2 linked regions of the Homo sapiens genome follow. The protein of the gene in region 1 purifies or fractionates together with the protein of each later gene. This does not show direct contact. Each region holds a gene or a part of one and is shown on either strand. Other genes may lie near its edges. The genes, in order: PRKD1 and TJP2.

Evidence for each region.
Region 2: the proteins of PRKD1 (region 1) and TJP2 purify together in Homo sapiens (affinity purification with mass spectrometry; 2 studies listed by BioGRID and IntAct, with this or other methods). This does not show direct contact.

Annotation. Positions count from the first base shown.
Region 1 is NC_000014.9:29,630,182-29,638,354, forward strand, and holds part of PRKD1 (serine/threonine-protein kinase D1), read right to left. Parts: intron 6,314-8,173; coding exon 6,109-6,313; intron 4,361-6,108; coding exon 4,237-4,360; intron 2,766-4,236; coding exon 2,688-2,765; intron 841-2,687; coding exon 561-840; intron 1-560.
Region 2 is NC_000009.12:69,177,005-69,185,177, forward strand, and holds part of TJP2 (tight junction protein 2), read left to right. Parts: intron 1-1,038; exon of another isoform or gene 1,039-1,125; intron 1,126-8,082; exon of another isoform or gene 8,083-8,173. UniProt on the Homo sapiens protein: Plays a role in tight junctions and adherens junctions. Acts as a positive regulator of RANKL-induced osteoclast differentiation, potentially via mediating downstream transcriptional activity.

The sequences.
Region 1 (8,173 bases):
CAGGCAGGAATGCAGTGGCTTGATCTTGGCTCACTGCAACCTATGCTTCCTGAGCTCAAGCAATTCTCCTGCCTCAGCCTCCAGAGTAGCTGGGACCACAGGCGCATGACACTATGCCTGGCTAATTTTTGTATTTTTTGTAGAGACAGGGTTTCCCCATGTTGCCCAGGCTGGACTAGAACTCTTGGCTCAAGTCCTCCACCTACCTTGGCCTCCCTAAGAGCTGGGTTTAGAGGTGTGAGCCACTGAGCCCGGCCAGATTACTTCTTCTTTTATAACCAATAGCTCTAGAGGTCTGTAATTGCCTAATACATAGTGTTTACCTGAATTTGTTAAATTTTAATATAAAATAGCTATAATAAAATAGGATAATTTAACAAACTAAACATCTTAGTATGTGCAGCAGCTTTTATTTAGACACCCTACATTCTACAATAAACTAAGTCATCCCCAAGAAGTCTTTCTTCATTCTGTTCTTAGGAAGGGCAGGGCACATGTTTACTAAGCAAGGGGTAGGCACATGATGAGCTTTGGGCTGGTTAGAAAACTGGCAGACTCACTGTGCAAGTTGGTTCCTGTACCCACGGAGGAGCCCTTGGGAATGACGGGCATAAGGGCATGCTGGATGGCTATCTCCCACATCCTGGCCACATCTGCACCAACGCCACTGGTGAGAACACTGTTATTTGGTGATGGGCTGGAAGGATTGACCACATTTTCTCCCACATAATACACTACATTTGCCGTAGTGATTTCGAAACAATGAGGATTGGCCCCATTAGGAATTAAAGCTGAAGTTTTTACTGGTTCCAGAGACAAAATTTCAGATAAAGGAATTTCCTGTGAAAGAAAAAAAGTACTAAATGTTGTTTATCAAAAGTATGTAAACTTTCAAAGAAAATTCATGCCAAGAACATGTGAAAAATGACATCACAAATAGCCACCATTTAAATAAAATACTTTTAAACTATAAAACACAGAATACTGCTAAGCAAAATTAAAAAAAATACCTTTACTATGGGAAACCTTATTTCCTTTTTCTAGAAAATGTGACTTTTTATGCTATGTTCATGTGGCGAGAATCAGTATGGTTAGGAAAAATGATTTTGAATCTTCACCAAAATCCAAGACTTAGAAAATAAGCGATAATTTTTGTAACAGTGAGGTAGAATCACAACACTTTTGAAATGCATTTAGGCAGACATGGCTATTTTTAAATTTTAACCTATTCTTTAAGGCACTCAATACATGTTAATGTAATAACATAGCCAAGTGAATAGTTTAAGTGAGGACAACTAGAGATTGGTTTTAAAATGGTCTTTTTTTTTTTTTTTCCAAGAAAGAATCTTGCTCCGTCACCTACGCTGGAGTGCAGTGGCGTGATCTCGGCTCACTGCAACCTCCATCTCCCAGTTTCAAGCAATTCTCCTGCCTCAGCCTCCCAAGTAGCTGGAATTACAGGCACCTGCCACTACACCTGGCTAATTTTTGTATTTTTAGTAGAGACAGGGTTTCAACATGTTGGCCAGCCTGGTCTTGAACTCCTAACCTCATGCTGCCTGCCTCGGTGTCCCAAAGTCCTGGGATTACAAGGGTGAGCCACTGCGCCTGGCCTTTTATTTATTTATTTTTATTTTTGAGACAGAGACTTATTCTGTTGCTCAGGCTGGAGTGCATTGGTGCAATCCTGGCTCGCTGCAAACTCCGCCTCCTAGATTAAGGTGATTCTCCTGCCTCAGCATCCTGAGTAGCTGAGATTACAGGTGCATCCCATCACGACTGGCTAATTTGTGTATTTTTGTAAAGACAAGGTTTCACCATGTTGGCCAGGCTGGTCTAGAACTCCTGACCTCAAATGATCCACCTGCCTCGGCCTCCCAAAGTGCTGGGATTACAGGCATGAGCCACTGCGCCTGGCCAATAGTCATCATTTTTAAGGCAATTCATACTAAAAAAAAGAAATCACTACTGCATCTTCCAGGAAGTATGCAGGGGCTAAAAAATAATAACTTTTAAAACAAAGTTTTAATTTTAAAATTAGTGAGGTTTCCATTTTCTGTGACAGCTATGTAAAATGGCTGTGGAGAATCAAATCAACTATTCCAGAGTCTGCATTCATTTTGAAGGAGCAAGTATCTATTATTTTCTCTATGAAGTTTTTTTTGGAGTTGTGTTTTACTGGGTGATATAGTATGCCACATCTGTATTACTTAATGTAGAGGGACAGAATAAAAATTGCTGCCATTTTTTTCTCTAGAGGAAAGTGCTCTTTGTGAATATTGACAAGCATGGAGAAATCATACAATGTTTCTTCACTCCTAGCAGTGTGCTAGATGCAGTGGATATCAGGAGTTTACTTTGAGCTGATCTGCTGTGACCATTAATTTTCTAGTTAAATCACACTTCTCTGCTAACATATTCAATTAATCTTCACCTCCCTCCCTCTCCCATCATCCCATGGTACCAGAAACACTCCCCAGGGAAATTTAAAATTCACAGAAGAATCAAGAGGTCCCAACCTGAATCCCAAGAAATTTGTAGACTATAGAGAAGAAAAAAAAAATAGTTCCTGGAGGAAGCACAAAAATAGCCACGTTTGTTGGATGTATTTCCTATTTCTTATACTCTACATTCCCATGAAAAAGCAATAAGAGGTATGAAACTACAAAGAAAGAGCCCACTCTTACCTTGTAGTACCTGCTTCCTGTGTCATTCTGAAAGAGGGTAATACATTTGCTATCCAATCTCCAATAGTGCCGTTTCCGCTGAAACAGAAGTTAGATCCAAGATCTTTTTAAAAAACTTTAAAAATATCCCCAATTGAAAACATAAATAGATTTCCCCAATAGGGACATGCGATTTGAGGGTGGAAAGTGCATGGGCTTTGGGAAAGGCAGACTCATGCTCAATTTCAGGCTCTAGAGGTTGACTATTTAGCACATGTCTGATAAGTATCTGCATTTATGTTACAGGGTCGTGAGTAATAAAGAAGATGAAGTATTAGCGCCCAGTAAGAGCCTGGCATTTAGAAAGTGCATAGTAAACAGAAAACATCATTTTTAAGCTTATTTCACTGCTTGAAGGGCTAAAGGTGGATGTATAGTCTATAATAAAATAAGGTTTACTAGGAGATGCAATGTTTATTATGCATGCTCATTATTTTAGGACGTAAGAAATCCCATGCTGATGGAGCCAGGTATTCTTGCTTCCATTGGCAATGGGAAAATTCTGAATGTTAGAGTAGAAGTAAAGAATATTTTGTTGGACAATAAGTTTGACTCCATGACATCAACTTAAAGTCAGGGGAATGCATCAAACAACCAACTCTACCTTCTCTCCAGCTCACTACAGATCTAACCACTATGATTTGATGAACAGGTCCTTCTACACTGTAGGTATATCTTTCAGGATTTTAGGGTGTGTGTGTATTTTTATCTTATAAAAGACCCCAAAGCTCTATGATTCCGCTCTTCTCCTCCACAACCAATTTTAGGCCAGTCAAATATATTAAATATATTACACCATGTCTAAAAAGAACTAGGCGGTATTCAATTGAGTCCTATAATATCAGGTAGGTCTTCTCTCTCTAACACAGATGGTCGAAATTATAGATAGATCAATTAGGTTATAGGTGTCTGCTTATCTGTAGTGATCCTATAGGTAAGAGATGAGAAAAGCAATACAGTAACAGAAATCAGTCAATTGTCAACTTAACTTTGAAACGTGAATCAAGTTGTTCTCTCTTACGTACGTACACAACCTCATTCCTCAACTATTAAGAAAATCTCAGGGTACAGGATTCCAATGTTCCTGAATGGGTCAGTTCTTCAGGGAAAACTTAGTTAAGGACTTACGAAGTATAAGATAGTTATCACTGTTTTATTCTCTGCCTAGAATGCAGTGTTTCCTATAAAATTCTAAATTGCAGTGAAGCATTCTGAAAGCACATACTGTGGCTTCCACAAGTGCTATAAAATGGCAGGTAGACATCTCAGGTAATCAAGGTCAATGAATTTGTTTGCCTGAAATTGCTTTCCACACTTTTTCCTAACTTCGTTGCTTGCTCAACTATATCTGACACCCAGAGACTGTAATGCACCTTACCTAATCCCGTGTCATGCCTGTGCTGAGGTTTACTCTGAGTAATGCAGAAATCTCACAGTCCTCACGGGACATTAGCAACTCCTCTAATTAAAGCTAGCAAGGCAAGAGAACATTGTTCCCTGTGGATCTTACCAGCGTGTCCTTGCTGGTGTAGTGGACCATCCATCCTTCTTTCATGACTGTGCTGCTTTTCCTCTTCGTGTGTTTGACAGACTGCACTACCCTCATGAGTGGGATATTGTTGCTTGTTGATGGACTTGAGAAGTCAAAATATTGTAGGGAAAAAATGTTTTCAGGTACATTTTATGTATTTTCATGCATAAAACCTTATGTCAGCTAATCCAAGTGAAACTTTACAAAATTCACATCTCATGTTTAGTAAAACGTATTGTCAGGCACCATGGTTCTGAAAGTGGGTTACTCTGAAGAGTGATAGGCACGTTGTTTGTACACCTTAAAAAATCCTGGCCGGGTGCAGTGACTCACATCTGTAATCCCAGCACTTTGGGAGGCCGAGGCGGGTGGATCACGAGGTCAGGAGTTCAAGACCAGCCTGGCCAAGATGGTGAAACCCCGTCTCTACTAAAAGTACAAAAAAAATCAGCTGGGCATGTTGGCGGGCACCTGTAATCCCAGCTACTTGGGAAGCTGAGGCAGAGAATTGCTTGAACTCGGGAGGCAGAGGTTGCAATGAGCCAAGATTGTACCACTGCACTCCAGCCTGGGTGACAGAGCAAGACTCCATCTGAAAAAAAAAAAAATTCCCAAGGCTGGGTAATAAGCACCTCATATTTTGGGTTGAACTGTATGGTGTTCAGTTTTCAGGTAAACCTGAGGTAGAGTACTTCTTAGTCTACTGAGGCCACACTATTCAGACTCACACATGAAAGCTTATTTGCTTATTTATTTCCTATTATAGGTACATTATCAATCATTTAGAGATTACATTATTCAACATGAATTTTTAGTTTCTCTGCATAATGTCATAAAAATTGGAATCTGCTAGTCTCTGTTTCTTCCTCTCTTCATCCCTCCCTCCTTGTCCCCCTTCCCACAACATGAATATATATGTAATTCCCACCACTGCCCCCCGGCACCATGCAAACTCTTTGGTACTAAAGAAGTGTATGTCTTCAAAAGACAGGTCACAAGACAATTATTTCCCACTATTTAAAAAATGTTCATTATGCCATTAAATGGAAAAAAACAATCATTTTATTGCTCTACTCTCATGAACAATTTGTTTGTCAATAAACATGGCATTCGTAAAATGGACACAAAAGTTTCAATAGGCTTTATAATATAAATCAGAGACTAGGAAACATTTTCTGTAAAGGGCCAGGTAATAAATATTTTAGTTTTTGCAAAAGACCTAACTTTACCAATATAGTGCAAAAGCAGCCACAGACAATATGAATGGACAGGCTATGTTCCAATAAAACTTTACTACAAATTGGGCAGCAGTCCAATTTGCTCTGGTGGCCACATTGTGCTGACTCCTGATATAAAAAGTGGGGATCATCCAGTAACCAAAAGCATAATTAAATAACAGATATAAAATTGCACATACTTCTGAAATAATATCAAGAACAGTGAAGTGTACACAGACTATGATATTTGTAACAGGGGCCAGCTAATAAAATAGATGATTTCTGCTGAGTTTGATCTTGATTTTTGTTGTTTCTACACAATGAGCTTCAAATTAATATTAACTTAGTAATAAACTTGTGGATGGCAAACATGAGCATCTCTCACATGCAAAAAAAAAAAAAAAATAGTTCAATGAATGAGGTGATGCTGGGAAAGAATGGCAACCACACTTCTCCCAGGGAACCCAGACCTCCTAACTTCAAAGGCTCTCATTTACAGCACGCAGTTCATTCATATAAAAGTAAACGTGCACTTCACATTTCTACTATAATCTATTAAAATATCAAAGAGGTTTAAAGAGAAAATACTGCCTGGGGTTCCCCTGTTGGCTGAGGCTGGGAGTGCTGCTCTCACCTGATGGTTCTGTTGGCGTCCTCGTGGTCTGGGTCTGGATCTTGCATCTCGCCACTGTCGTTCTGGCACTCTGCCATTGCCATCTCTGCATCTTGGACCATTGCTTCTTCCATATCATCCATGAGCCCACTGTTCCTTTCACTATCATTGTCATCACTCCCTTCTTCCATGACCACATCAGACTCTGCCCCAGGGCTAAGCAAATCTAGAAAATTATTTTCACCCATGAAGATAAGCCTGGAATCTTGGAGCCAGGGCTTAAGAGACAGTCAGGTGATCCTAAAACAAATCAATTGGAAGCCCCAAAGAGGTAGTTCTGTGATGAGTTTATTTTTTATTTTTTAACTTTTATTTTAAGTTTAGGAGTATATGTGCAGGTTTATTACATAGGTAAACTTGTGTCATGGGGGTTTGTTGTACAGATTATTTCATCACCCAGGTATTAAGCCTGGTACCCATTAGTTATTTTTCCTGATCCTCCCACCCTCCAACCTTGAAGGGACCCCGTATGTGTTATTCCCCACTATGTGACCATGTGTTCTCATCATTTACCTCCCACTTATAAGTGAGAACATGTGGTATTTGCTTTTCTGTTCCTGTGTTAGTTTGCTAAAGATAATGGCCTCCAGATCCTTCCATGATTTTCAATTTCCTTTTTTATTTCAGTTTATATGCATCTGAGTTTATGAGAGGTTGAACATGTAATTTTATAGGTAGATGCTCGTTTTCCGTTTTCCCAAGCCTGAAAACATGAAAAGTCATGAAAAACCTTGGAAGGAAGCCAAAGCTGGGATAGAAGTAAAATGCTAGAAGGCAAAGTGATACCAGGCCCAAGTGACTGGGAAGCTGCTCATATTTTAGAAGCACAGCCCTGGTGGGAAAAAAAAGTATGTAAGAGGATGACAGAAATTTTCACATGAAAAAAGATTCAAGCCACTGATTCTTACTATTGGAGTAACTTTGAAAATCACGAATTCCAATATATTAAATTGGTCACATAGCTGCAGCTTTTAAATAAGACATTTGATATTTGAAGTAATATTGAACCTGTCATTATACAGTTGATGGTAATGGCAAAAATTAAAATTACTTACTAATGCAAAGTACTCATTTTAAAATGAAAATACAGATTAATGAGAGACTCTAGCCTGCCAAGCTTGGAAAATTCACATTTTACCAGATTTTTCTGAATGTATAAGAAAATAGAATTTCAAAGTAATCAACAACATCAAAAACTGTTCTGTATCCCCTTAGTTATAGTTATCCAGTACACACTGACATTCCCTGAGCCTGAACAAAGTCAACACCACATGCCACAGAAAGTGGGACGATCGCCAAGCTTTCAATTTTGGCAGCTAATTCATGAATCTCCAAGCCAGAAACAAGTGTGACAATGTTTTCCTGGAGAGCTCTTCCTTCTTCTTCTTTTAGGTACAGTATATATTTCTTCTAGAGAAGAAAGTTCTAGAGCAAAGATAGTCATTCTTCAGCTTCTTAGCAACAAAAATATTCAACTGAAAGTATCTGTGATCTTTTACAGCCATTTTCCTTTCCAGAGGAATTGGAAAACTGGTATCAGGCTAAAGGTATAAAGACCACTATCTGCAGAAAAAGCTAACCTGGGATTCTAAGTCAAATATTTTGGTAGTGATCCATTAGAATGCTACCCAAGAAGAAAATGTAAGCTCTTTGCTTAAGATATGGCATTTTTCTTAGCAGTCCTTCGAAGTTAATTTATACAGTTAGAGTTTTCTTGAAGGAATATTGCCAAATACAGAAAATACATCTATTTTTTTTTGGCTGACAAAGTTCCTTTTATTATTAAAGATGATTGAAATGAGAAGGACAGAGGAAAAGAGACTGAGAGCTATAACTTGTAGGCAGCCCAACAACATCCACATTTCTGGGCAAACTAGGATAAGAATATAAGATAATAAAACTGGGAAATAAATTATGGCTACCCAAGTTTTCAATACTAGCTGCTCACCATGTAAAGATCATGAAAGGGTCTTTGACTGTTATCAAAACTCCATGGATGCTTTTCTATTGTAAAGTAGAACAAACA
Region 2 (8,173 bases), on another chromosome or scaffold:
CACTGCTGAAACTTTCAACATATTCTACCAACAATATGAGCCACCAGGGAATTCCTTGCCTCATCTCTAGAACGAATCCCATTAAGCAGTTGTGGCTACAGATGAATTTATCTAGGTTGAGAGCTGATTCCCAATAACATGCCTCATTGATTTGACTCTAAGCAGTAATCAGGGGCCCAACAGTTGTTGGACCAACCAGCCTTGATTTTCCAGAGAAGGTGATTTGGTATATGGTAGTGTCTGAGGGTGAGATTGCCCCAGATGGGAGTGGAGGGAAGCAGAACAGTTTTCTCTGGTGTTTTACTGAGTTTTTGTCTTGATCCTAAATCCAAGGGTTAGGGTCAGAAACACAGACTCAGAGGTTAGATTTAACACCCATTTAGTGGGTTAAACACATCAATGGTTATGTGAACTTTGTTAAGGTTTAAAAAGCTATTTAGGGCCTGTTTCTCCCTCATAGGAATTTTTGCAATCAGCCTTTTTAGTAGATGCCCATATAGAAAGTGAATTTGGGAGGGTCTAAGGTGGTATTACTATTAAACTTTTTGAAAAGGCTGTGTGATAGCAATGGAAAAAAAAATTCAGGCATGGAAATCCAATATGCAGTATTGCAGTAGCTAGTTTTAATTTTATTTTTGTTTTTTTGGTTTTTTTTTTGGAGATGGAGTCTTGCTCTGTTGCCCAGGCTGAAGTGTGGTGGTGCGGTCTTGGCTCACTGCAACCTCTGCCTCCCGGGTTCAAGCGGTTCTCTTGCTTCAGCCTTCAAAGTAGCTGGGATTACAGAAGTGAGCCACCGTGCCCGGCCACTAGTTTTAATTTTGGATGGTACCTAGGAAAGCAGTTGAGCTAGTATGCTGCATACATTGTAGTGTGAGAGGCAGAGTTCCGAGTTGGAGAGTGTCTGCTTCCACTTTTTCCATTTGATTAGGAAAAGCACTTCTTAGAACTGGGTGACTGACAGCTAGAGCCCCAGAAGACCTGCACAAGCTGGGGCAATGGCTACCCATAACAGTGACGGCTCCATTCTGTTTTTTAAAGGGATTGGTGTCTCTATCATCCAGCTGGCCATTAAACAACCAAAGCTTCATCATCCTAGATAACCTGTGAGCTCTCAGAGGAGACAGAGTAAGGACTATCATACCCCCAAAATACCTAATCATTTAATAAAGCATTTTCTCTACCTTTTATGCTATCCCAAAACAGTGCTTTCCAAAGTCTGGTATACAGACAGACTTACAGGTGGTGCAGAGAGATACATATTCTATTTTTCAATTATGATGCATGAATATTATATGTTAGGAATAAAAACAGAAAACCAGCTACCACATCCATTTATTTCATGGCTAGATTGCTTAGAATGAGGCAAAAATAAATATTAAGTAAAGCAGTGAGTTTGCTTTAAGAAAAATTATCAACTCTGGGAATGAGTAATATGAGGCTAAGGCAAAAATGGTAAAGCTAGCCCTTGACATCTGAGGTGTGCATAATACTGCTTAAAATATGAGTGTGGTGCTTACTTATAGAGAGCCTGGTATACCTTGACCACGCCTTCAAGAAAGTCAAACACAGAATGGCCCAGAATAGCCAGGAAAGTTGAATTTGATGGACTTTCTGTCTTAAGCGTGTGCATCCTGCTCTTATCCACTCAGATCTCTTAGATGTGGTTGCAGACAGTGTATTTGTAGAGCTAGCTGTTTGTTTTAACGTCTGGCCCAATTCTCATTCCTTTCTCTGCTTCCACAAGCCATTCTGCAGTTTTTAAAGGTCTGTTGGTATGATATTTTTGATATGATAGAGTGATAGGGGAGGAAGTATTTTGACACTGATGAAGGACATCACTGTATTATCAAGTGACTCTTGCTCATGATTCATTGCCGAAGAATGTGGACAGCCAAACAGCCTCACCTGTAAATGCATTTAATTTCTCAAAGTCTTTCAGAAGAATGCCAACTGGATGAGTTTTTTTTTCTTATTTTTTTTTTAATATGAAGCTTGTATTGGTCTGTAAAATAGGCTTTAACAAGGATTTTCGTAGGAACAGGAAGCCTTGAGGTAGAAAACAAGTATCCCTGCTTTGACCTAGAGAGATGCATGCTCATGGCAGGCGAATGAATCAAGGAGAAGAGAAAATACTGTTTCAGTAGACTCTCTAGTGATGTGTGTGTTCACACCATTTATGAGAAATCCTAAGCTTTCAATTAGTAACTTGTACTTTAGTCATTTAAAATCAGCACAGATGTTTGTTTAGTGCCTCTGCCAGATGGTTAAAGTTAAATCAGGTTTTTTAACCTGAAAAACGTAATGTAGCTTTCCTTAACCATTTACACACCATTGTATATTGCAGACCATAGTCAGATACATTTTGTTATAATGAATGTTTATTTTACCTTTTAGCTCAATTAGAATATCAGTGGTTATGGTTTCTATTTTGTTTTCCTACAGTTACTGTATGGGGGTGCAGTAACAGCGGTGGTGGTGAAAGTAAGTTACTTTTTTCTTTTTCTTTCTTTTTTTTTTTTTTTGAGACGGAGTCTCCCTCTGTCGCCCAGGCTGGAATGCAGTGGTGCGATCTCGGCTCACTGCAAGCTCCACCTCCCGGGTTCACGCCATTCAGCCTCCCCAGTAGCTGGGACTACAGGCGCCCGCCACCACGCCCGGCTAATTTTTTGTATTTTTAGTAGAGACGGGGTTTCACCATGTTAGCCAGGATGGTCTTGATCTCCTGACCTCGTGATCCACCCGCCTCGGCCTCCCAAAGTGCTGGGATTAGAGGTGTGAGCCACCGCGCCCGGCTGAAAGTGAATCTCTTAATGGATCTTCCATGAATCAAATATTTGTGTTTTAGTAAGTTAGGCTGACCAAAAGATTTCGAATCATACCTTTAATCATGGCAAGGATCTTATGTCACATTCTTGAGTACACATGTTCACTAAATTTTACCTATATGTGTATGTGAACATGGACTTCAGAATTAATTAGTGTGGTAATTATTATTTCTATTGTAGACTTTAATCAGCCATATTAAATATATGCATTATGTTCACAGAGAAAACATGGTATCATCTTTGGAAACTTTACAGTATGCTCTATATTATAGATACCCTATATAACTATGGTACTAAACACACGAGTTAGTGACAAGTCAGGCATTTGGAGGGAATGTTTGTAACCCATTGTGGGAGAGAGTTATTAGAATAGTTATTCTTACTGGTAGGTAACAGTTATGGCTGTAATGAATAGAATGTGACTAAAATCCAGTTATGCCTTTGCCATCGTATTAAAAGCTTTGGTGGAGACGTGAGAACATTGCAGATACTTTGGATTTTGTCACTTGAGTTGAAGGTAAACAGAGAAAACAGTACTTTCTAGTCATCAGTAGGAATTAACTCTTCCAGGACATGTAGCTTCAAGGACCTTCTAGGTTCTTCTGAGGGGGAAATAATGTTCCACTTGGGGCCATTTTTTTCCATTTGTTGAGAGTCATTTGTTTTCAGAGTATTAAAGGAAGTGTTCCGAGTTCTAGGTTGTGTTTCTTTGATGCCTACTAAAGCTGAGCACACCTGAGACCCTGGGTGGAGCTCTACAATGGGAATAGGAGTAAGTAATGTAGGCTTCGAGAGACAATCATTCTGCTCTCAGTCCTTGGAAGACTGTTCCTAGGTATATATGGCAAAGCAGATGAAATTATTTGAGGGAATTAATTAGCAAAACTAAACATTTCTGTTTTTGAAAGGAATGAATCATTTGGAAGGAACTTCCTGGTGAGCTCAGTTTTAGCAGCCTGGTTTCTGCGTTACCCTTCTGCAGTCTGGCTGAATCAATTGTGTTCTTGCCTGTGATTGGTGAGGATGCACATGCTAGTATTTATTCTAGCCCTTATCACTTCCCATCAGCCCTGAGCCCCTCCCTGGTCTGAGTCATCTTGGTAACCCCAGAAGCTAACAGAGCACCAACACATCCACTAAACGTTGGACTGACTTGATTTGGGGCAGGCTTGTTGTATAAGCTAGTAGGAATAAGAGACTAATTGAGAAATTAGGACAGTGGATTCCTGACATTTATATAGTGAGTAGATGATCGTTTGTTAGAATTGCGAATTTCATCCAGAGAATTTTGTCCAAAAAAAATTATAGAATTTCATCTAGACCATTTTTGTAATGGCATGGAAGCAGCATTAGCTGCACCACTGATTAGCTGGGTGGCTTTTGCTGTCTTGTGACTCTAGTTTGCAATTTCTTTTTTTTTTTTTTTTTTTTTTTTTTGAGGTGGAGTCTAGCCCTATCGCTGAGGCTGGAGTGCAATGGCCCGATCTCAGCTCACTGCAACGTCTGCCTCCTAGGTTCAAGCGATTCTCCTGCCTCAGCCTCCCAAGTAGCTGGGATTACAGGCACACGCCACCACACCCTGCTAATTTTTTGTATCTTTGGTAGAGACGGGGCTTCACCATGTTGGCCAGGCTGGTCTCGAACTCCTGAGCTCGTGATCCGCCTGCCTTGGCCTCCCGAAGTGCTGGGATTATAGGCATGAGCCACCTCGCCTGGCCTAGTTCTCAGTTTCTTTATCAGAAAATGAGTAGTTACAGTTGATCATCTCAAAGTCTTTTGTGCTTAAGATTCTGAAGGTTTTGAAGTTTGAGTATAAAGCCTAGAGAACATTCTAAATTATTTCCATTGGTTCTTCTCATCTTAAAATGTTTTTGTGCTCCTTAAACTACGTTTGTGTTTGCTTGCTTGCTTTCTTTTTTTTTTAGAGATCCAGTGGATTATCTCTGAAAAGCATTTTTTAAAAAGACAGAGTCCAAGAGTGGCTGGTAGTTGTTTTGCTCATAAAGTGATGGAAAGATCTATTATTCAGTTGCAGCTTAAATTATGTACCAGCACCACGTGTGCTGGATTCTCTTCCTTACTTTGCAGCTTAAGCCAGCAACTGCAACCATCTTGCAGAGCTTCTTGAGAATCCTTCTTCCTCTTCCTCTTCCTCTCCACCCCCATGGACTTCTCCCCGGGCCTCATTGCCTGTGACATACGCTTGGAAGGAGGGGCAGGCCTGCAGCTGGGAGCCCTTTCTGATTTGTTCTTCACAAATGTGTTGAAGATGAGCCTACTGGTCACTGCTGCAAAAAACCACATTGTTCACTGGTGTAAAATCACTGCTGTCATCTGAGTTTCAGCATAACTTCAGGCATGTTGGAGTTTTTCAACGTCACCTCAGGCAGAGCACTTTGCCTTCCTTGGGCTGGTCTGTTTAGTGTCTGGGTGAGTTTTAAGAGAGGAGAGACATTGTGGCATCTTAGACACTCACTGAAATTTTCCAGAAATGGAGCTGGAAACATTTGTGCGTTTCCTTCTGGTGTTATTGTTAAAGCCTAAAAACAAGGGCAAGTGGCAACACATTGAAATGAAGAAGCCCCAAGTTTGCAACACATTGAAAGGAAGAGGCCCCAAGTTCGTTTTGAGCCTAAATTGAATTTTAATCAAAGGTCTGAGAGAAATATTTAGTCTACTTATACTATTTAAGTGCACAGTTTGGCAGATGACTTTGGGCAGTGAAGGATCTGGAAGAGGCAGGAAAGGTAGACTCAATCTGCCAGACTTAGAGCTAAAAAAATTTGCCTGGTATGTTTCCATGAAGAAAATTTTCCTGTAGAAGCAGTGGCACGACCTCTGTTACAAGTCTGCTTATTGATAATGAAGCTTTTTCTGTGTTATCAATTTCGTTGAATTTATATGTATGTATATACATATACACACACACAAATCTCAAGTAGAGAGCTTGATGAATTTCTTTTTTTTTTTTTTTTTGAGATGGAGTTTCACTCTTGTTGCCCAGGCTGAAGTGCAGTGGTGCCATCTCGGCTCACCACAACCTGTGCCCTCCAGGTTCAAGCAATTCTCCGGCCTCAGCCTCCCGAGTAGTTGGGACTACAGGTGCGCACCACCATGCCCGGCTAATTTTGTATTTTTTTTTTTTTTAGTAGAGACAAGGTTTCTTCATGTTGGTCAGGCTGATCTCGAACTCCTGATCTCGGGTGATCCACCTGCCTCAGCCTCCCAAAGTGCTGGAATTACAGGCGTGAGCCATTGTGCCTGGCCAGGGAATTTTATTTATTGTGGTAAAGTACACATAACATTAAGTGTACCATTTTAACCATTTTAAAGTATAAAATTCAATGGCATTTAATACACTCACAGTATTTTGTAAACACCATCACTCTCTAGTTCCAGAGGTAGGTGAATTTTTACATGAATGTATTCACCTGCATGATTACCACCTAGATTAAAAACTAGAATTTTCCATCACTCTGGAAGGTTCTCTCTTGCCACTTTTCCAATGATTACCACACCTACCTAAAAGAGAACTTCTCTTCTGACTTCTCTCACCGTGGAACACTTTTGCTTGAACTTGGGAGAGGACCCATATATAAATAAAATCAACATTTTATGTCTGTCATCTTTCACTCAACCTAACCTCTGTGAAATTCATCCGTATTTGTTGCGTGAGATTCAGTAGTTCTTTTTTGCCACTGAGTCGTATTCCATTTATATGCATCTGTCACATTTGGCTTATCTCTTCTGTTGATAGGTATTTGGGTTATTTTCAGTGTTTTTGCTATTATGAATAAAGCTGCCATGAAAAGCACCTACACATTGCCTTGTGGACATGTACACCCATTTCTCTTGTGTGAATTCCTAGGACCATAGGTTAGGGATTTTTTAAAAAACTTATTTTAGATTAAAAAAAATATTTTTTGAGACAGTCTCACTCTGTCACCCAGGCTGGAGTGCAGTGGCATGATCTCAGCTCATTGCGACCTGTGCCTCCCAGGTTCAAGTGATTCTCCTGCTTCAGCCTCCCAAGTAGCTGGGATTACAGGCATGCGCCACTACACCTAGCTAATTTTTGTATTTTTAGTAGAGACAGGTTTCTCTTCAACTCCTGAGTTCAAGCAGTCTGCCCACCTTGGCCTCCCAAAATGCTGGGATTATAAATGCGAGCCACCACGCCCAGCCAGGTTACAGATGTTTAACTTTGATTCTTTACCTCTGAAGTCAAATAAACCTGGGTGTGAATTCTTTTGTCCTGCCACTTGCTTGCTTGACTTTGAGCAATTTACCTTTTTCTCATGTTCAGTTTTCTCAGTTGTAAAATAGGCCTACCCTATCAGTCATGGTTCAGTCAAGAAGACATGTCATTCTAGCTATTTCAAGGAGAAGGGGATTCAATACAGAGTATTAGTTGCCTTCAGGACAAAGAAAAGGCGAGATGCGCAAAAAATGGAAGCCCACCGCTGGCTTTCTGATTTGCCGCAAAAAAAGTTAGAAAGCTGCTGCCACCCAGAGAAGACTCAGAAGGTCTTGCTTGACCTTCCACCTTCTCAGCATCTCCAGCCTTGAGGCTGGTGAAAGGGCAGGGAATCTGGACATGCTGTAAAGCTCATGTCTGAGGAATCCAACTTTTGCCTGCTACTGCTGCTGTCTGTAGGAAGAAGAAAAACAAATGGCTTCTGCTTTCCTTCATCCTTCCAAATCTCAAACACGTGTACCTCGCTGGTAGAACCCTGTTGGCAAGAGAGATGGGGGATCTCTGGTAGAAACAGAAACTCAGTGCCAGCAAAGAAGAAATGGCATAGATGCCACCTGGGGTTGCTTTGAGGTGCTCAGTAAATGGCAGTGGTTATAATTTATTATTTTCATCATTCCTCAAGAACTGCTGCTGCAGTTCAGACTGATTTCTCTCTCTCTCTCTTCTTTTTTTTTTTTTTTTTTGAGACGGGCTTGCTCTGTCACCCAGGCTGGAGTGCAGTGGTGCCGTCACAGCTCACTGCAGCCTCGACTTCCCTGGCTCAAGTGATCCTCTCACCTCAGCCTCCGATTAGCTGTAACCACGGGCATGCGCCACCATACCTGGCTAATTTTTAAATATTTTGTAGAGATGAGGTCTGTCTATGTTGCCCAGGTGGGCCTTGAACTCCTGGGCTCAGGCGATCCTCCTACCTCGGCCTCCCGAAGTGCTAGGATTATAGGCGTGAGTCACCACGCTTGGGCAGCAGACTGATTTCTTTTTTTTTTTTTTTTGAGACAGAGTCTTGCTGTGTTGCCCAGGCTGGAATGCAGTGGTGCAATCTCAGCTTACTGCGACCTCTGCCTCCCGGATTCAAGCAATTCTCCTGCCT